Homo sapiens: one gene and its partner. The protein of the gene in region 2 binds, or shares a complex with, the protein of the main gene of each other region. Each region holds a gene or a part of one and is shown on either strand. Other genes may lie near its edges.

Region 1 (10,069 bases), on a different chromosome or scaffold from region 2:
GGAAAGATCACTTGAGCCCAGGAGTTGGAGGCTGCAGTGAGCTGTGACCTGTGACTGTGCCACTGCACTCCAGCCTGGGCAACATAGCAAGACCCCATCTCAAATTTTAAAAATGAAAAGAAAAAGGACAGGTTCAGCCCGTGAAGAGGGGACAGAAGAGGATTCCAGAGAGAGGCTGAGAGTGGAGATGGGGCAGAAAGATGAGCTAGGTGAGACTGTGCCCTGGCCTTGCCACTGGGAAGGAGTTTCCACTGATACTAAACACAATAGGAAAGCATGGACAAATTTGAGCAGGGACAAAATTCCAGCTCTGCCACTTTCTAGTTATTTAATTTTCTGGCCTTCAGTTTCTTCATCTATAAAATGGGTATAATGATGGCCCCTACCTGACAGGGTCCCTGGGAGGGTGAAATGCCTGGCACCGGGTAAGTACTGTTACCATCACCATGGCCATCACCATCATCATCATCATCACCACCACTGTTCCCCAGGGAGCGAGACGCCCGTGTGAAGAGGAAACTGCGGGGCCCAGAGCCAGCAGCCACAGAGGCCTATGGGAGCGGAGGTGAGTGTAGTCCCGATGGCGATGGGGCCAGGCCTGAGACAGGGATCCTCCCTAGCCCAACCTCTCCCTTCCCTCTCCCCAGACACACCAGGTGGTCCCTGCGACTCCACCCTGGGTGGAGACATTCGTGAATCAGATCCAGAACAGGCCCCAGCCCCCGGGGAAGCCACCGCTGCCCCGGCACCTCTGTGTGGTGGCCCCAGTGCTGAGGCCTACCTCCTGCACCCTGCGGCTTTCCATGGGGCCCCCAGTCACCTTCCCACCAGGTGAGTGGGACAGGGGACCAGGCGGGGCTGCGGGTCCCTCTGCCCTGCTCTGACATCCCTCTCTCCATGTCAGGAGCCCCAGCTTCCCGGAGGCTCCAGACTCCGGGCGCTCAGCCCCCTACTCGGCTGCATTTCTGGAGCTGCCGCACGGGTCAGGGGGCTCCGGGTACCCAGCGGCTCCACCGGCGGTACCCTTTGCCCCGCACTTTCTCCAAGGGGGCCCCTTCCCTCTACCATACACCGCGCCTGGGGGCTATCTGGATGTGGGCTCCAAACCCATGTACTGAACCACTGCTGGGCCCCTCTGCCTCCATCACAAACCTCCCGCTCCCTTCCCCCAGCCCTGGAGCCCCCTCACCTCCACCGGCCCCATCCCCCACACCAAATGGCCGCCTTGGGCCTGCCCACCCACCCCCTCAACTTCACACCTTGATTTCACTCCCACCCCCCTCTGGCTTCAAAGCCTAACCAAGGCTGCTGGGAGTCCAGCTGGGGCCGGCTTCCCCTTCCCGGCTCTCACCTCCGTGTGAATGGAAGGGGCTCTGCCTGGCCAAATGGGGCCACAGACCAGCATCCCCACTTACCAGGCCTCCCCATGGGCTCTGGAGGGGCTCAATCCCCACCCCCCCACACACACTGGTGCAGGCCACACCAGTCTGTTGTTCTGGGACCAGAGTATTTTTGTTAATAAAACTCAAAAGCCATCCATGCTCAGGAAACATTGGGCTCCTGTGTTTGGCCCTGGGCGGGGCTGGGTGAGCAAAGGCTTTGCTAGGAGACCCAGGCCCAGATCTAGACCTGTGTTTCCAGCTGCCTGACCTAGCACAAAATCCACTGGCCCTCTAGGCCCATCTCCTCTTCAGGAAAATGGAGAAATCAGAATCCTGTGATTCTGTGTGTGCCTGTGTGTGTATGCTGTTAATAAGATAAGGCTGCCCATGAGAACAGAGCCCTCTCCCTAGGGCTGGGGAAGCCAGCAGGCAGCGGCCCCTGGAGGCCCTGGGCAAGCTGACTGGCCTGAGCCTGGCCCTCTTGGCAGGTCGGGGCCCTGAGGCAGTCAAGGCCCTGACGTCCACCCCAGGTCCCAGGCCAGCAACCCTGTGCATTCCCAACCAAGTCTGGCACAAACCCAAAAACCATTTTTCTTCTTTTATTAGAATTTTTTCATTTTTTTTCTCAAAATTTTTATCTAAAAACAAACAGAAAAAAGAAGGAAAAAAAGAAAAAAAAATTATTGGAAACTTCATGGTTCAAGTGGGGAGAGAGGAGGAGGAACATGGAGCTAGGTCTCCAGGCCTCTCCAGAGAAGTCCTCACCCTCGAAGCACCCTCTTGGGGGACAGCAGAGCCAGGACAGCCCCCCCCACGCCCAGCCTCCGTCTGAGGAAGATGGCAGAGTCACAGTGGTGCGAGGGCCAGAAGGGTTGGAGGGGGCAGGGGCCGGGCGGGGTCACAGGAAGTAGTCGGCCACGGGCTTCTTGGAGGGGATGCCCCGTGTCTCTTGGGGAGCAGCCTCAAAGATGATGAAATCTTTCTGGAGATGCTCGTCCAGCTCCAAGATGGCTGCCACATTCCCACAGCTGGAAGGCGGGGCAGCAGGGTCAGGAGCAGCTCGGCTCAGATGCCCGCCCATCCCAGCCCGGCCCAGCCGGCTCACCGGTAGCAGTAGTTGGGTGCCGACCACACAGTGAGCACCGTCTCATTGAAGTGCCACTTGTAACCTTCCATCACCAGTTGGTGGGCACGGCAGATCATGTCAATGTCATTGGCTGCGTTGAACTGGGCCACCACGTCACTGCCAAATAGGTAGCCGGCTCCTCGGGGGCTCACGCCCCAGCCTGTGGTGTCTGATGCGGAAAGGGAGGGATGGAGAGGGATGTCCTCAGGCTTCTCTGGCTGCCAGCGCTGCCCCTTGAGGGTGAGCAGCCTGGCCCCTCCCCAAGTCCACCAGAGGCCCGTGGGACCAGAGCATGGGGCCTGAATATGGTCTGTGGGATGGCGGGGACCAGGACAGCAAATGTAGGGGCAGATAAGCTCCAGAGGAGAAAGAACGCCCAATGCCTGGGGCCCCCTCATAATCACAGTGATCATACAATCCCCGTCCAAACAGCACATAAGAGTGAAAGGGGCACTCCCAGAGACAGAAGGGCACCCTGTGTTGTCACAGGGAGGTCCGGAGTGACTGTGGAGCAGCGGCTGCATGTGTGTGTCTGCATGTGTGTGTCTGTATGTGTGTGGCTGTGATGGAGCAGAGGCCTCGTGTGCGTGTGTGTGGCTGTGATGGAGCAGAGGCTATGTGTATGTGTGTGTGTGTCTGCGCTGGAGCAGAGGCTGCCTGTGCGTGTGTGCCTGTGACAACAGGAACTCTGGCTGGTCCTCAGAAGACCTGACTTTAAATCTCAGCTCTGCTCTACACTAGTGGAAAACCCACAAAATGAGGGGTCTCAGGGGGCTACCATTCTGGGGTTCTGACCTCTGAAGAAGCTGCTGTCATGTTCTAAGGCCCCTTCACTTCAGGGAGCCATGACTTGGTTGTCCTCCACAGCCCTCTGGGCCATGCCCCAAGCCACTGTGTGCTCAAAGCACCTGCCATGCAGGCCTCCCTGCTCCTCCTCCAGGGTTCCAGCCATTTGGCAGGTGGAGGACGAGTGACAGTGAAGACCAGCCCTGCTCCCTCTCTTTCCCAACCCCTCCTGGCTGTCCCTGCCTGCCCCTGCCCACATGCCCTCACCTTCTGGGTCAGACCAGAGGAGGTCACACATGGGCCCATCATGAGGCACCTCTTGCTTTCGGTCGATTGTCCGAATCTGATCCAGGGTCTGGATGGAGGGGGAGAGGCCCCCGTGCACGCAGAAGATCTACAGGGGAGAGCAGGGAAAGAGGACGGGGCTGAGGCCTGAAGCCCCCCTCCTCTCCCTGTCCCATGGAGCCCTGGGCTGGCTTACCTTGCCATCGATGATGGCTGACAGGCTGAGGTAGTCAAAGATCTCAGTGCAGTAGCGCCACACAGTCACCGAGCCGTACTTGCGCAGGCACTCATCGTAGAAGCCATAGACCTGCGTGATCTGGCGACTCTCATGGTTGCCCCGGATCAGTGTGATGCGATCAGGATAGCGAACCTGGGGGTGGCCACCAAGCCAGGGCTGGCGCCTAGACGGTCTCTCCACACATCCCTCTCTGACCTCCTCGTGCCCGCCAGCCTGCCATCCTCACAACCACTGCCCAGCACACTCCTGGCACCTCTTGCCTGAATCGTGTGGCATCAGCCACCTCCCAGGCCCACACGACCCCTCCAGAGAATGTAAAGCTGACCCATTCCCTCAACTATGAACCTAATGGCTCTTCTTTCACCTACCAGACACAGACCGGGTCCCTAGCAAGGCACCCAGGCCCTTTGTCATCTGGCCCCACACTGCCTCTCCCACCAGTGGCATCAATGACCTGCCACATTCGCAACAGTGAGCCTCTGCCCCTCCCAGAATGCTGCCCCGCTGGCCTCAACCCCCATCAAGTCTCTGACCACCCCCAAAAGCAGAATCGGTCCATCACCAGTGACACAGCTCCAAGGTGGGGCTGGTCACGATAGGAGATGAGGGCGGAACGGACTAAGACAGGCCCGGCCCGAGGTCGCCCAGGTTGGGGGTGCAGAAGCCGGGGACTGCCACCTTAAGTGCCAGCAGCAGGAGGAACGTTTCGACGCTATAGAAGCCACGGTCCACAAAGTCCCCCATGAAGAGGTAGTTGGTCTCAGGGACGTCGCCACCTACCTGTGGGGAAGTAGAAAGTTTTGCCCTGTCGTAAACAGTCCCCTACCCCCTACCTGTTTCTGTCCAGCGGAGGCCCTTCTTCCACAACCACCCATCTAACTTGGGGCCCCTTGCCCCCACTCCACGCCCCAAATTAAGGCTCCCACCCTCAATTACAGGGGTCTTCCAGTCATCCCCCCGTTACATTTCACAGTGTTGGCCACACTCTTACTCTGAACAGCTCTTTGAGGTCATAGAATTGTCCATGGATGTCGCCGCACACCTGGGGAACAGGAAGAGTGGGGTTGGAACTCAAGCAGTGGGAGTTGCCAGGGACTACCCTCCAAACACCCGCTGCTTTAGTGAGCTTTATCACTCTTGGCTGCACTTCTACTTCCTAGGACCAAAATTCTCCTCTCCCACCCCAAGTCAGTCTGGTCTGGAACCATACCCACTGTCCTATGCTGAGTACCAACTATTCTGTAGGCAAGAGCTAGAACTAAGTCCTTCCAGGTAGATGTCCCGGCCCCTTCCTCTCTCTACTCCCCACAAAGTACCCAGAATCAAGTTACTAACACAGAGCCCTGGAGATATGTGAGCAGAATCACTCGCCAAATAGGAGTCCTTCTGCCCTGGCCAAGAATCTCCACTAACAAATCCAAAGTCCCTTCCCATAACCCCTTTCTTTTCTTTCCTTTCTTTTTTTTTTTTTTAGACGGAGTCTCACTCTGTCGCCTAGCCTGGAGTGCGGTGGCGCGATCTCGGCTCACTGCAAGCTCCGCCTCCTGGGTTCACGTCATTCTCCTGCCTCAGCCTCCCGAGTAGCTGGGACTACAGGTGTCCACCACCACACCTGGCTAATTTTTTTGTATTTTTAGTAGAGATGGGGTTTCACCATGTTAGCCAGGATGGTCTCGATCTCCTGACCTCATGATCCACCTGCCTCGGCCTCCCAAAGTGCTGGGATTACAGGCGTGAGCCGCCGCGCCCGGCCTGTTTTTTTTGTTTTTTTTTGTTTTTTTTTGAGACGGAGTCTCCCTCTGTCACCCAGGCTGGAGTGCAGTGGCCTGATCTCAGCTCACTGCAATCTCCAACTCTGGGGTTCAAGCGATTCTCCTGCCTCAGCCTCCCAAGTAGCTGGGATTACAGGCACGTGCCACCACGCGTGGCTAATTTTTGTATTTTTAGTAGAAACGGTTTCACCATGTTGGCCAGGCTGGTCTCGAACTCCTAACCTCAAGTGATGTGCCCACCTTGCCCTCCCAAAATGCTGGGATCACAGGTGTGAGCCAACGTGCACAGCAACCCCCACTTCTTTTAGCAGTGCTCCGTTGAAGGTGAGGGAAAGGACAGATAAAAGAGCTTAGGGTTGGGCTTATAGAGCCCCCAAGATGAAGAGGAAACTTCATGTGCCTGAAAGACCAGGCCTGGCTCTGCAGGGACAGCAGGTACTCACTGTGACTGGCGAGTCCACCCTCTGCACGTTGCTCTCCTCTACCAAGATCTCTCTGGAGACAGGAGAAGACCAGGGTCACCACAGCCAGGCCAGCCCAGCCCAATTCCTGACCTTTTTTGGGGGGAGGGGAGGATATGAGGCAGTCCTGGAAGCTCCAGGGGGCAGGAGTGAAGCGTACAGTCTCCCCAAAACAGGCTGACCACGGCCCTTCAGCATGCAACACCCTTCCGTGGCCCCCTGCTGCCAAAAGGACAAAGTCCAACCTCTTATCCCAGCGTTCCAGGCCTTCTGAGCAGGCTGGGACTTTTCCAGCCCTGACTCCCCCTGCCGCTCCCTCTTCCGCATCCAGGACTCACTCCTGGGAGGCGGGTCTCCCCATCCTCTCCACAGCAGAGCTTAAGTCACCCTTGGCCAATCACAGAGCCCTTCTCCCAGGCTATCCAGACACAAGGGTAGGTGCCCAGGGCAGGCCCACAGTGGATGCGCCTTCAAAGTGATGCGCTCTTGGCCAGGTGCGGTGGCTCATGCCTGTAATCCCAGCACTTTGGGATGCCAGGGTGGGCAGATCACGAGGTCAGGAGTTTGAGACCAGCCTGACTAACATGGTGAAACCCTGTCTCTACTAAATATACAAAAATTAGCCAGGCGTGGTGGCGCGTGCCTGTAATCCCAGCTACTTGGGAGGCTGAGGCAGGAGAATCGCTTGAACCTGGGAGGTGGGGGCTGCAGTGAGCTAAGATCGCGCCACTGCACTCCAGCCTGGGCGACAGAGCAAGACTTCATCTCAAAAAAAAAAAAAAAAAAGTGAGGTGCTCTTGCCATGTGTTCAGTATTTCTTTATGACTATGAGGACTTAAATATTTTTTATTTCTCCTTGCAGTGCAGTCTACTTCTACTTGAGTGAGCAGGAGATGAAATCACTTTGCCAGGTAAGACACCCAATTTTTTTTTTTTTTTTTTTTTTTTGAGACAGAGTCTGGCTCCATTGCCCAGTCTGGAGTGCAGTGGCGCCATCTTTGCTCACTGCAAACCTCTGCTTCCTGGGTCAAGTGATTCTCCTGCCTCAACCTCCCGAGTAGCTGGGATTAGAAGCATGTACCACCACGCCCAGCTAATTTTTGTATTTTTAGTAGAGTCGAGATTTCACTATGTTGCCCAGGCTGGTCTCGAACTCCTGACCTCAAGTGATCTACCCACCTTTGCCTCCCAAAGTGCTGGGATTACAGATGTGAGCCACTGCACCCAGCCTATAGATACCCAATTTAAGCAACACTGTATTTCCAAATTTTGCCTGGTAATAGCAGCAGTGAACATTCGAGCTCATACTGTGTGCCACAAATGTTATTAAGAGCTTGGCAGGCAGGTACTATGATGATTCCCGGTACACAGATGAAGAAATTGAAGCAGGGAAGGAGGCTGGCTTGGTGCCAGTGACACAGGTGGGATATGAACCAGGGAAGCCTGGCTCTGGGGTCTGACTCTTTATCAAGATATTCTGATGTGGGAGGCCCAACTCGCCTGGCCCCCCTCTTTCTGCCAATCTCTTCCCTTAGAATGAGTTTCCTGAGCTCAGTGGACAGGAGGATTCACTTATGCCCCTTGCTCTGTATGGCAGAGGCAGCACGAAGGAGGTCTGCCCTGGCTTTCTGGGAACAGAAGGCAGCACTGGCGGTGGTCCAAGAGGCCACATCAGTACCCGGACTCTCCCACCTGCACTGCTTCTTGTGCTGAACATCCTTCCCCATCAACTGCTCATAGTGACCTTTCCAACAGACTGGGGAGGTTCTCTTCAGCCTCACGTAACAGTAAAGAAACCGAAGCTAGGCCGGGCGCGGTGGCTCATGCCTGTAATCCCAGCACTTTGGGAAGCCAAGGCAGGCAGATCATGAGGTCAAGAGATTGAGACCATCCTGGCCAACATGGTGAAACCCCGTCTCTAGTAAATATACAAAAATTAGCTGGGCATGGTGGCGCGTGCCTGTAATCCCAGCTACTTGGGAGGCTGAGGTAGGAGAATCACTTGAACCTAGGAGGTGGAGGTTGCAGTGAGCCAAGATCAGGCCACTGGCACTCCAGCCTGGGCAACAACAGCAAAACTCTGTCTCAAAAAAAAAAAAAAAGAAAAAAAGAAACCAAAGCTTACAGAAAAGCGGGAGGGTCAAGGTCACCAAGCTGGAGAGTGGCTAAATTGGAACCCAGAAGCCCAATTTCCTGAGAATTTATGCCAGCCCCTTCCACAGACCCTGAGTGAAAACCTGAAGCCCAGGGAGGTCACATGCAGGGCCCGTGCTCTCTGCAAAGCCCCCCTCAGTGCCAGCGCAACCCCAGTGTGGCCTGGGAATCAGGCCCAGATTCCAGCCCCAGTTCTGCCACTTGCAGCACTTCCCCAGCCCTATCAGGACCTGCCTGCAGTAACGGCTACCAGCGCAGCAGGCCCTGTGCCCGGATACCCGGACTCTCAACTGCATGTCATTATCACTTCAAAAAATCAGAAAGTGACTTGACGAGGGTCATATTGCTTCTAGGTGACAAGGCAAAGATTCATACTGAAGACCACCTGATTCAAAAGCTCAGCTCTCCTACTGTGCTAATATTTCTAGTAGCAGCAATTTCAGCTCAGACACTGCGGACCTCTGTGCTTCCACTGGTTTCATCTGCATGTCTGTGCCCTCTAGGCAAGCTGGTGCTCTTGACACCACCAGCCTCAGCCTGGGTCTCTGATGGGTCCCCAGGAGGCCATAACCAGGTATCAGAGATGGCCCTGCTTCAGACTGAGCCTGGGACAACAGCGGCCAACTCAGGCCTTGGCCTAGTACCTCCTAGTTCCACTCAGTTTCAACTGGGCAGGACCCTCCACCCCTCAGCCTTCCATGGCTTCCTGCTGCCTCACACCCCACATCAAAATCTAAATGCCTCTGCCTGGCTCTCAGTGACCACGGAGCACAGTCAAAGACCTGGATGCAAAACTAACTTCCCCTCCGACTAGCTGCGTGATGTTGGGCAAGACATTATCTACTCAAAGGCTCAGTTTCCTCTGCTATGAAATGGGGCTAAGTACTCAGCCCACCCTGCGTATTCCTTAGGCTGTTGCAAGGAGCCATGGAGACTGAATATACGACTTCCTGCTATTCTGCAAACTCCAGCATGCTATCTAAGCTTTGTCTACCATCACCACCACACTGATCCAGGGCCCGTGAGGGAGACAATACTTCGAGGTTAAAGAATAGTGCCAGGCAACAACAGGTTTAAGTTCCTAAAAATGCCAATCAGGACTGAGGGAAAGGGGACAACTAAAAACACCATGGGGCTGGTCTGGTCAGCTGGCAAAAGAGAAAAGCCACAGACAGGTGGCGAAAAAGAGGCCGACCCTGCTCATCATCCCCTCACAGGCCCTGTCTGGCTGCAGGTAGTCTATGTGAGGCAGGGCCAGGCAAAGAGCCTGAGGGCCACAGATTCAGGACCCAGCTCTGCCACGTCCTCAGTGGGTGACCTCAGTTAAGTCACCAGACCTCTACGAGTCATGGCTTCCTATTCGATAAAATGCAGCAAATGATTCCAACCTCATAGGATTGCTGGGGGGAAGAGATGGATAGAAGTTTTTTGCCAGTACCGGGCCAGGCCAAATAGTGGCCCTGTAAAGGCCAATGTTTACTGTTCAATAAACGTAGGGTAATTCTGTGGGCTCTTCTGCCACAATTCTCCAGCCTGGTAGAAGCCACAATCACACAGTTCCCCAGAGGAGGCAGGTAATTAAACCCCTGACTGTTCCCCACGCATCTCAGGGCCTCCACTGTTACATTCGTCCTGCTTGGAATGCCCTTCCCTCACTGGCCCTGCCTCCATCAGCTAGCCAAATTATCTTCATCCTTCAAGGCCTACCTCCACTCAAAAGCCCTCCCTGATGGCTTTAGCCCATCTCATTATTGCCCTCTTCCAAAAGAAATAGAATACCTGGTGATTATCAAGCACGTATGCTGTACCAAAACACTGTGCTAACCTCATCTCCAGCACCAACTCACTGAATCTTCACAATCATC
Region 2 (11,022 bases):
AAAATACAAAAAAATTAACTGGGCGTGGTGGCGGGCGCCTGTAGTCCCAACTACTTGGGAGGCTGAGGCAGGAGAATGGTGTGAACCCGGGAGGCGAAGCTTGCAGTGAGCAGAAATCGCACCACCACACTGCAGCATGGACGACAGAGCGAGACTCCATCTCAAAAAAAAAAAAAAAATTAGTCAAGCATGGTGGCTCACATCCATAATCCCATCTACTCAGAAGGCTGAAATTGGAGGATCGCTTGAGCCCAGGAGGTTGAGGCTGCAGTGAGCTGTGATCAAACCACTGTACTCCAGCCTAAGGGACAGAAGAAGACCCTCTCAAAAAAATTATTTTCAAAAGTGCAAATTGAAGATTTGGGTGAAAATATGAAAAACCATGTCTATTACAAAGAAACTAAGTTTAACATAACCCCTAAATGGCCCTATGATTTCAATTAGAAAAGTGTACTCAATTTAAACAAAAATAAACAGGTAACATCATTCACACAAGTTTTTCACTCTTCTTCAGTGTTTCCATATTCTTCTCATTACCAGAGTTCTCTTATACACCTGAATGTTATGTTGCCAAAAAAAAAAAGCCCAACGAAAAAATAAACTATTACAAAACCCCAAATAGTATATTATTTAAATGTGATTACAGAAAACATTTCCAAATGGTGTAATTTTTTTAAATAATGCATTTTTTCCAATACTTTATACTAAGTGTATACAAAAATGCTAATTATCTAGAACTAATTTTCTAGTAGAGCAACATTATACATGAAATTACCTACATATCCTAATGATTCTAAAGTATTCACAGAATCACTATGTATTTTTAACTTATGTTGGGTGACTATTTTAAATACAAACCTACTCCATAATGTGATGTTTCCAAAGTAACAACAGCTAAAAGATCTTATATACAATCTGAGAAGAATCCATTATTAAACCTAAATTTGTAGGGAACTGTTTATGACTTAGTTACATTTAAGAACAAAGTTCCTGATAATTATATTCATGCAGATAAGGGAAATATGGTAAAAAAAAAAAAAAAATTAGTATTTCTTTCCCCACAAAGAAGCAAGCAAACAAAAACAAACTAAAAGTGATCATCTGGTAAAAACTCGGTATAAAGACAGAGATTAAGAGCTGCCTGGCTGACTGAGAAATTAAATTTACTTAAATGTCTACCTTACAATGTCTAAGGTATAGGAAACATCTTCAGGTTTTCAATTCAGGACAAATGTTTAATTTGCTTCTCCATCAAAAAAGACACACAATATTTTCTAAACAGAGAAAAAAGCTATGAATTGAATATTGAAAATTTTAAAGTATTTCAAATAACTGATTAAGAATGTGTTATATACATAATTGTTCTAACAGTAAGACTTTGTAATAATAAGCTGCACAACAGACAGAATTTTATTCCTCCAACTACGAAGTACTTGTTTCTGGGCATCCAAATTTTCATAAACCTTGAAGTGGGCACTGACGCTGTAAATGTAATCCTAAAATAATTTATCTTCCTTCAAAAATCTCTGCCATCGTGACTTTACATACCACACACAAAAAAGAATACCTGGAAATAATTCAAATGTATAACAACAAGTGTATGTCATACATAAGAATACTATACAGAGTTTAAAAAGAAAACTAGATCTACATTGTTAACATGAACGAATATTCAAAATGAATGTGTGAAAAATGCAAGCTGCAGAATACATGTAAGAGTATGACATCCACTGTGTAAAGTTTAAAAACACACAACAGACTACATATTATTTATGGATACATACATATGCAGAAAAGGTATAAAAGCATGTACACAAAGAATACACATCAACTTCAGAATAGTGGTTACCTATGTAGGGGATGGAGAATGTAAACAACGGGATGGATACAAACAAGCTTTAACTCTATCCATAATGTTCAATATTACAAAAATATTTGAAACAAATATGGCGTAACATTAACATTGTTAAATCTGGTGGTGTTACAGTAGACACCGATTATTCTCTGTACTTTTCAATTTTAATATATTTCATAATAAAAACAAAAACATTCACAGAATAAAAAAGATTGAATCACTGCTACCATTTTCAGATTAATCAGGCGTGCTAAAATACAATACACATTTTCTTTCCCAAATAAGACAATATTAACAGAAGATGTTACATACTTGGTAATGTACATTTTTATAAAGTATCCATTGATTACTATATTAAAAATACACAACAATTAAAGAGCAGGATTTAATGCTTCTACTTCAAAACCTCTACCTTTACTTGAGTCAAAGGATTTAATTTCACACCACAAACAGGCTTTCCTTGCTTTAAGAGTATCCCTTTGAATTTTGTTCTATGTCATTTCCTTTAAACGTGACTCAGAATAAAAGGTTTCATGTACAAGGTATAGAAGAGACTTGGCTAACTACAGTTAAATAATACTAATAAATACATCTTAGAATAAACCGACAGTGGCTCAATCCAAAAATGATAATTATCACCAGTACAAAAACTTTTTTTCAGTCTGAAACTTTTAACCTGCAAGAGAAATACACATGATCTTTGTTTACCAAACATGTTTTTTTCTTGTCAGGAAAGCTTTCCCACCTTTGTCAGATTAATACTTCCTTGATCACAGATGAAGTCTTTCAAATTAAAGATAAACAACTACTTGCCTGTTGTTTCTGATATGCAGTATTTGGATTTATCTTTGATTCCAAGAGTAGTGATCCTGAAAGATAAAAAATAATACATCATAAGTCTCAAATGATAAAACCCTGAATAAAAATTAGAATACACATTAAAGCCGGGCGCAGTGGCTCACGTCTGTAATCCTAGCACTTTGGGAGGCGGGCAGATCACGAGGTCAAGAGATCCAGACCATTCCAGCCAACATGGTGAAACCGTCTCTACTAAAAATACAAAAATTAGCTGGGCGTGGTGGCGCATGCCTGTAGTCCCAGGTACACGGGAGGGTGGGGCAGGAGAATCGCTTGAGAGAGAGGGAGAGGAGGCAGAGGTTGCAGTAGCCCAGATCGCGCCATTGAACTCCAGCCTGGCAACAGAGCAAGACTCTGTCTCCAAAAAAAAAAAAAAAAAAAAAAAAATACACATTTAAACCCCGCCCCCCGCCCCCGCAAACTTTTCAAGTCTTTTTACCGAGTTGGACATCTTAATAAAATGTATTCGAATTCACATTTTCTCTCCAAATCTAGGCTTCACATTTAATCTAAAATATTTCACCCTATTCCCATACACCCTTAAAGGAAAAATTAATCTAAAACCAACAATCAAACCAAGGAATGAGGAGACTAGATGACTATTAAAATTTTATTGAAATAAAAATTTTAAGGTCTAAATGACCACTTCAAGCCATTCGTTTTAACAAAAGTTGTTTTATTGCATTCCCAGTTTAACAAATAATGCAAATTACAAAACAAAAACATCATGACAGGGATTAAATACTTAGTATAGAAATTACAGTGCTGCATTTATCCTTTCCTCATTAAGAACAAAAGAACACCTTCTGTAGAAGTGATGACTATTTAAAATAAAAGGGAACAAGCAAGAATACAAAATATGTCAAGACTAAACCTAAGATTATTTTTCTAACTGCCTATATCAGTTGTTCAAATCAAGTCCAGATTATACTATAAAAGGCATTTTAATTACGGCTCTACATTTTGTAATTTAAAATACTTCACATGACTACAATAAACCAAAGAACACAGCAGTTTACAACCTGCTTTGGTGTCCCAACTTGCTTAGATTGTAAGGCATTCACTTTCTCATAGCGCCTTCTACAAAGGCAGCCCGAAGAAATGCAGACTACAGATGTATGTGCTTGTGTGTCCATGTATCGTGGCAACAGTCAGCAATACAGCCAGGAAAACGTGCCTTTCGGTTTTCCCCAGCACCTGTCGACTGTGGCACCTGGGGCCCGTTGGTACAATTTTTTTTTTTTAAAAACACTCGGAAAGAAAAGTTTCCCTAAACCGTTTGTACTAGACGTATAATGGATAAGTAAATAAAGGGGGAGGAAGGTGTCAGCTCCTAGGGCGACATCAGTACCTAGTCTCTCACTACTTCCTCCCTTCTCTCTCACACTCTCCCCTCTTCAAAAGAGGAGGGACTGGAAAGGAAGGAGTCCAATCCTTAAGAGAGATGGGAGAAGGACAGAGAGTCTCGGTCTCCGAGGATAAGTCCAGTCAAAAGTACAGTACTTTGTTTTTGCCGTACACAAGAGCCAGTTCAGAACCAACGCGCTGTCCCGAAGGAGTAGCAACGGTAACGGGCCCAGGGCCCTAAACCCAAGCTGTGCCCCAACCAGAGGCACTATCCCCTATTCTACAGTTCCGATAACCTTACCGTCGGACTCTGCCCGAACCAGCAGCGACATCCCCTTGAGCTCCTCCACGTAAGTGGAGGAGACGTGCCCGGTGCCTCGGTCGTCCCATTGCCGGTCTTCGTTCAGGGTATAGACCTTCACTCGCCGCCGCGTATCCGACATGGTGGCTGCTGTCTCCACCGCTCTAGCCGCCGCCTCCTCGCTTACCTCGTCCGCGCTCCTCACTCTTAGGAGACGGTAAAGGCAGTAGTGGCGGTGGCGGCGGCGGCGGCTTCGGAGAGGCCCGAATTCACCATGGCTCCAAAGGTTCAGCCGCGAGAAGGGGTGACAAGAGCCACTGAGGCCTCTCCGCCCGGAGGCCCCGTTACCTCTCACTTCACCCGCGCATACACCCACTCTCCCGTCTCTTTGCCCCCCAGGGCTCGCTTGCTCTCCCGCCGCCGCGGTAACTACTACAGATCCGCCATCTTGTAACCCGACTCTCTCTGCCTTTCTCTTCCTCCTCCAGCAGGCTCGCACGGGCTGTCCTAGCAGGGGCTACGGCGGCCGACAAGTCCCATGAGCAGCACCTCCGCTTCTGCACGCGCTTCCCAGGCCGGAATGCTCGGCGCTCTCGCGAGGAGGGGTACCGACTGGGGCGGGAGTACTTCGGCGAGACTTCCTCCTCTTTCGGCCCGACTTCCTCCTCTTTCGGCCCCGCCTCTTGGCGCGGGGTCGCAATTGGGCGGGAGGTTCTCGCGATCTCCCCGTCCACGCCTGCGCCGCGAGAGGCCGCTAGGTGGAAGGGGACTTCGGTTCCGCACGTCGTCATGTTGTTGGATGGCACCAGTATGTGACGTTCCTAGGAACTTAGCTCTGAGGAAAAAACAAAGCAAACCGGGGAAGTACGTAGCCTTGAACCGGAGTAACCAGGGACAGAAAGGAAGGAAAAGGGTTTCATACCTTCACGGAACGACGCTCACTTCGTCCGCCTGAGGAGGAAAAATAAGTTTAAACCTTTCTGTGAAAAAGAACGTGGAGCCCTTTCTGCCGAATGGAAACCCGCTAAACCCCGTTATGGAGTCTGCTACAATTAAGCATCTAACCAGGAATTGTCTATGGACACAACTCTCCAGGCAATTCATGCAGAAAGTGTGTTGACGATTTCCTGTTTCTTGCAGAGCGCTTCACCGTTAAGGCTCTTAGTAGCTGGCGATTGTAAAGCACATTTTCCGCTTCATGAAAATACAGTGCTCTTCTTGTGTTTGTAACCTTGGAAAGTAAGTCTGCTATGATAAGTTTAGGGAAGTGGCGGGGAGCTACTTTCCTAACATATCTGTGATTGTTTTGATACTTCTCAGTTTCTCGCGGGCATTTCCTGCGTTCTCTATAGGGCTCTCTTGCACTGAATAAGGAAAGGAGGAATTCTCTCTGCATTGAGGCTATTATCGCACATTGTGCGGTGGATATAGTCACGCGCTGGGTCGTAGTAGCGTGTCGTTTATTTCAGTCCAGCTCACTCTTGGTAGAATCCCTTTATTCGTTTTGTTGTTTTTGATAGTCTCTCTCTGCTTCCCAGGCTAGAGTGCAATGGCGCTATCTCGACTCACTGTAGCCTCCGCCTTGAGGGCTCAAGCGATCCTCTCACCTCAGCCTCCCGAGTAGCTGGGACCGTAGACGCCTGCTCCCCATCCCCGCTATATTCGTTCTTTAATACAGTCTCTCAGCTTGTTCAGCTGCCACTTCTGTGCAGCTCATTAGCCTGATCGGTGAAAACTAGGCGAGACGCGCACACTGACCCTGCAGTGCATCTTGGGAGTTGTAGTCATAACTAATCAATGGTCTTGTTAAAACGTGCTTATGTTTTGACCAGATCGCTTAAGTGTGGACACCCTTCAGCAGTACACTACAACGTGGGTCAGTGTACAGAACACATGCTGATAGAAATAATTTCAAAATCTGGATTCATAGTTTTTTTTTTTAATCTAGAGACCTCAGAAAATGTACTTGAAGAAAATCATCATAATATAATACATAACAATAGAGCCAATTAATTGATGTGATGAAAGTGGACAAAATGTATTTTGACCTCAGAGAAAATAACATTTCTGTCTTGGAAGAGTCAGAGAATGCTTCACACAATTTTTGAGCCTGATGTTAGACTCTCCAGCCTTCTGTCCAAGCCTCACCCTTTGGTTACTCCCCAGGAAGACTGAACTTGGGAAGAGGATTGTGCAGACCCTGGAGTCAGGCTTGGCGTTTGGGATAGGGAATACTAGAGTGCCCACAGCATGGTCTGGAAAAGGGAAAGTGGGCTGCAGGTGGCTACAGTCCCATGATTCCATGGATTTCAGACCCCTCCAAAGCACAGGGCTCAGTGCTTATCCAAGTCTGAGGGCCCCCCATAACCACATCTTCCCCAGCAGATGTTCTTTGCTTCAGGCAGTCATCAAAGTTCCACTTCAAAGAGTTGCTAACCAAATAAGCCCACAATCTTCCTTTTTTGTTGTTTTGAATAAGTAATGCCTTTACACATATGAAATTAAAAAGAGAGGCCGGGCATGGTGGCTCACGCCTGTAATCCCAGCACTTTGGGAGGGCGAGGTGGGCAGATTGCCCGAGGTCAGGAGATCCAGACCAGCCAGGCCAACGTGGTGAAACCCTGTCTCTGCTAAAAATACAAAAATCAGCTGGGCGTGGTGGTGGGGGCCTGTAATCCCAGCTACTTGGGAGGCCGAGGTAGGAGAATCGCTTCAACCTGGGAGGCAGAGGTTGCAGTGAGCCAAGATTGCACCACTGCACTCCAGCCTGGGGGACAGTGTGACAGACTGTCTCAAAAAAAAAAAAAAAAAAAAAGGCAAAGATATATAGTGAAAACTAAGTCTTCTTTTAGTCTTTGTCTCCTGCCACTCATAGAATTTTCCTCTTGGAATCACCTCTATTCCATTTTCCTGTGTATGTTGCCAGAGCAGGGCTGGCTTCATGGTGGTGACCTGTACAGATAGGCACTTGGTTTAATGTTTTGCTGTCACTAACTTGAAATTCAGGAAAGTTTCTGGACAAGGGCCCTGCGGTTTTATTTTGCACTGGGCCCACAAAGTATGTATCTAGTCCTATTCCAGAGATATTCTATGCATATACAGGTAATTATATGTAGATATGTATGTAGTGGTCCAGTAGTGGTCCAGGGCCTGTTAGGAACTGGGCGGCACAGCAGAAGGTGAGTGGCAGGGGAGCCAGCATTTCGGCCTGAGCTCTGCCCCCTGTCAGATGAGCAGGGGCATTACATTCTGGTAGGAGTGAGAACCCTATTGTAAACTGCACATGCAAGGGATCTAACCTGTGCACTCCTTATGAGAATCCAACTCCCCCTTTCCATGGAAAAATTGTCTTCCACAAAACCAGTCCCTGGTGTCAAAAAGGTTGGGGACCTCTGTAGTAGGCTACCATCTAGGTTTGTTTAGGTACACTCTATGATGTTCACACAACAAAAAATCACCTGATGATGCATTTTTCAGAAAGCATCCCCATTGTTAAGGGACACATGACTGTAATGGAATACTATTCTTTTCCTTCCTTTTTATTTTTTGTGGAGACAGGGTCTCTACATGTTGGTGCCCAGGCTGGTCTCACACTCCTGAGCTTAAGGGATCTGCCTGCTTTGACCTCCCAAAGTGCTGGGATTACAAGTGTGAGCCACCATATCTGAACCCCTGTCCCCCACTTTTTTTTTCTTTCTTTTTTTCCATACACAGTCCAGGCTGGAGTGCAGAGGTGTCATCTCGGCTCACTGCAACCTCCGTCTCCCGGATTCTAACGATTCTCCTGCCTCATCCTCCTGAGTAGCTGGGATTATAGGTGTCCGCCACCACGCCCAGCTAATTTTTGTATTTTTAGTAGAGATGGGGTTTCACCATGTTGGTGAGGCTGGTCTCAAACTCTTGACCTCATGTGATCCACCTGCCTCAGCCTCCCAAAATACTGGGATTACAGGGGTGAGCCACCGTGCCCAGGACAGCCTTTTTTGGGTCAGTGTGTATATAGAGCTAACTCATTCTACTTAATGGCTACATAGTATCCCACTGTGATAGCCGCAAAAGGCAGACAAATCCTAGGCAGACAGGGGCAGGTCCCTGGTGAAACCCTTCAAGCTGAGGACAGTTTAAAGGCTAGCCACAAGACCAGGATAAATCCACAGACCAGATTGAGAACCTCTCTTCCCATTTGGCGTGCTTTCTTCTGATTGATCCCCACCCTTCACCTATTTTACACATATCCTTTCCTAATTGTTTTTTTACACTGTTGTACCTACCTTTGAGTGGTGCTGTTGTTTTAGCCTTTTTTGCATACTCACAAACCAATCAGCATGCACGCCTTCATTCTGAGCCCATAAAAGCTGTGGACTCAGCCGCACTGAGAGAGAGACCACCTGACTTTGAGTGAGGGACCACCCTTGCATCCTCTCTCTCCTGAGAGCTGTTTCATAGTTCAAATAAAACTCTTCTCCACCCTCCTCACCCTTTGATTGTCAGCGTAACCTCATTCTTGGACGCTGAAGAAAAATTCGGGACCCACCAAACGCAGATACAAAGAAGGCTGTACACACTGTGGCCCTTTGCCCTCTGCTGGTGGAGGGCAACCGTCCCACACAACGCGATGGGAAGCAGCAGTGGGGCAGAGCCAGTCCTGAAGCCACGGGCCTGAGTGGGGCAATGGGACTGATAGAGCTGTTAACATGCCACTGTCCGTTGGCCTGCAGACGGCAGAACTAAAAGAGTGCTTAGCATACTGTAACACCTCTGGGGCTTCAGGGTCATGAGCACCCCTGTTTGGGTGCCACCACATTTCCCTCAATGTGACACACCTGGTCCAGCCACAAGCCCCGCACAGAGCCCACTCCTGCCCTGTACTCGTTCACTCACACACCCCCTCCTGCCAGGGGCTGAGGCCATGGTGGCTGCAGGATTCGTGCCTGAGCACAAGCCAGACACATCCTGGTGGGCCGAGTAGTTGGGGTGTTGCTGGCCGGAGGTCTCCAGCTGTCAAAGTGGCCAAGAAAAATCCTGCATCAACTGTACAAATGTACCCTAATTTATTTAACTCATTTATTGTATATTTGTGTCATTTCCAATGGTTCGTAATTTCAAACATATGATTGTGCAAAAGTTGTTTTATGTGTGCCAATATCTTTGTAGGTTAATTTCCTAGAGCAAAGTTTTTCAACCTAAGCACCACTGACATCTGGGGCTGGATAATTTGTTGTGAGGGGCTGTCATGTGCGTTATACGATGTATCCTATCCACCCCTATATGTTATGAAAAATATTTCAGTGGCCAGAATCCTTTCAATGACTTAAAAAGCCCTTTTCATCCTGCTTCTGCCTACCTCTCCAGCTGCATCTTAGTACCCGCACACTCTTTTTTCATACTCATGCCCCTGCTTGCTGTCTTTGCACAGGTATTCTCTTTGTCTGGAGCTTTCTTCCTCACCAATCATCTCCTAATAACTCCCATTTTATCTTTTAAATGTTGCCACTATTATCACTTCCTTGGAGGAGCCTTCTTGGACTGCCTATTTCAAATCCCCTGGGTTTTTTTTTTTTCTTTGACAAAAGCCACATTCGAACAAATCCCCCTTGGAATGTTACAATTACCAAAAAATCCAATTTAAACTAGTTTAAATGATAAGAGAATTTATTGGCTCACATAAATGAGAAGTCTGAAGATAAGGTGAACCTCAGGTTGATTTGAGTGACTTAACAGTATCAGCAGGAACTTGATTTCCTTCTACCTCTCAATTTTCTTTCTGATGTCAGATTCATCCTAAGGCTTACTCCTTTTGTATCATAAAATGGTGGCCAGGATCTCCCAAGGTTATGTAGTTCTTTGTCCATATCAAAAGAGAGTTTCTTTCACATATTTCACAGTTTCAATGTGATTAAATTAATTTAGGTCACATGTCCGCCCCTAAACCTAGAGTTTTGTGGTCTAGAGAATGTCAAGCACTGATTGGCCAGGGCAAATCAAGGCCTATCCTTGGAACTGGAAGTTACGTTAATCCCACCTAAATCCCATGAATGTTACTCTATGAGGTATCGGTAAAATCGATGCTAGGAATACAATCAGAATCCATTATATCCTATTACACGCTTATAGCACCATGCACCCCTCCATTGTAGCACCTGTCATACTTGTAGCTTTATATTTATTTGTATGATTTCTGATTAATAACTGTCTTCTCATCCAGATGAAAAACCTCTATTAGTCCAGGGAACTGCATTTTTTCTCACCATTGTATCTCTAGTCTAGCACAGGGTGTCAAACATAGCAGGTTCTCAATAACTATTGAAAGAATGAAACTTCCCTTAGAAGTTTACTACTCAATTTGACATTCCCTTTAGCAGGCAATTTAATAGCTACCATATCAGACTTATATTACATATTTGAAAGTCCCAGACTGAGATCTCTAATTTCTATCTCCAGGCAGTCAGTTCTTGACACACCACTGAGTAAGATTCATGGAATAAATCTGACCATATTATATTCCCTTGACATCTTTCAAGTTCCTGATTTCTTTTAGGATAAAGTTCTTTATGATGCCATTCAAAGCTCTTCATGGTTTGGCCCCTATCTGGCTTTCTATTCTCAAGAGCAAAACTATAGACTTCTGGCCTTCTTCAGGGTGATCTTTCTCTTTCAATCA

The links.
Region 1: PPP4R3B (region 2) and PPP4C share a complex: the UniProt entries of both Homo sapiens proteins name them as parts of the PP4 complex.

The regions. Positions count from the first base shown.
Region 1 is NC_000016.10:30,077,274-30,087,342, reverse strand, and holds the end of PPP4C (serine/threonine-protein phosphatase 4 catalytic subunit), read right to left. Parts: intron 6,144-10,069; exon of another isoform or gene 6,085-6,143; coding exon 6,033-6,084; intron 4,860-6,032; coding exon 4,809-4,859; intron 4,598-4,808; coding exon 4,496-4,597; intron 3,950-4,495; coding exon 3,776-3,949; intron 3,689-3,775; coding exon 3,562-3,688; intron 2,678-3,561; coding exon 2,488-2,677; intron 2,411-2,487; coding exon 2,281-2,410; 3' UTR 1,967-2,280; downstream 1-1,966. Other genes in the region: T-box transcription factor TBX6, read left to right, coding at 492-565, 648-831, 905-1,118. UniProt on the Homo sapiens protein: Protein phosphatase that is involved in many processes such as microtubule organization at centrosomes, maturation of spliceosomal snRNPs, apoptosis, DNA repair, tumor necrosis factor (TNF)-alpha signaling, activation of c-Jun N-terminal kinase MAPK8, regulation of histone acetylation, DNA damage checkpoint signaling, NF-kappa-B activation and cell migration.
Region 2 is NC_000002.12:55,612,783-55,623,804, forward strand, and holds the start of PPP4R3B (serine/threonine-protein phosphatase 4 regulatory subunit 3B), read right to left. Parts: upstream 4,841-11,022; 5' UTR 4,504-4,840; coding exon 4,362-4,503; intron 2,725-4,361; coding exon 2,669-2,724; intron 1-2,668. UniProt on the Homo sapiens protein: Regulatory subunit of serine/threonine-protein phosphatase 4 (PP4). May regulate the activity of PPP4C at centrosomal microtubule organizing centers.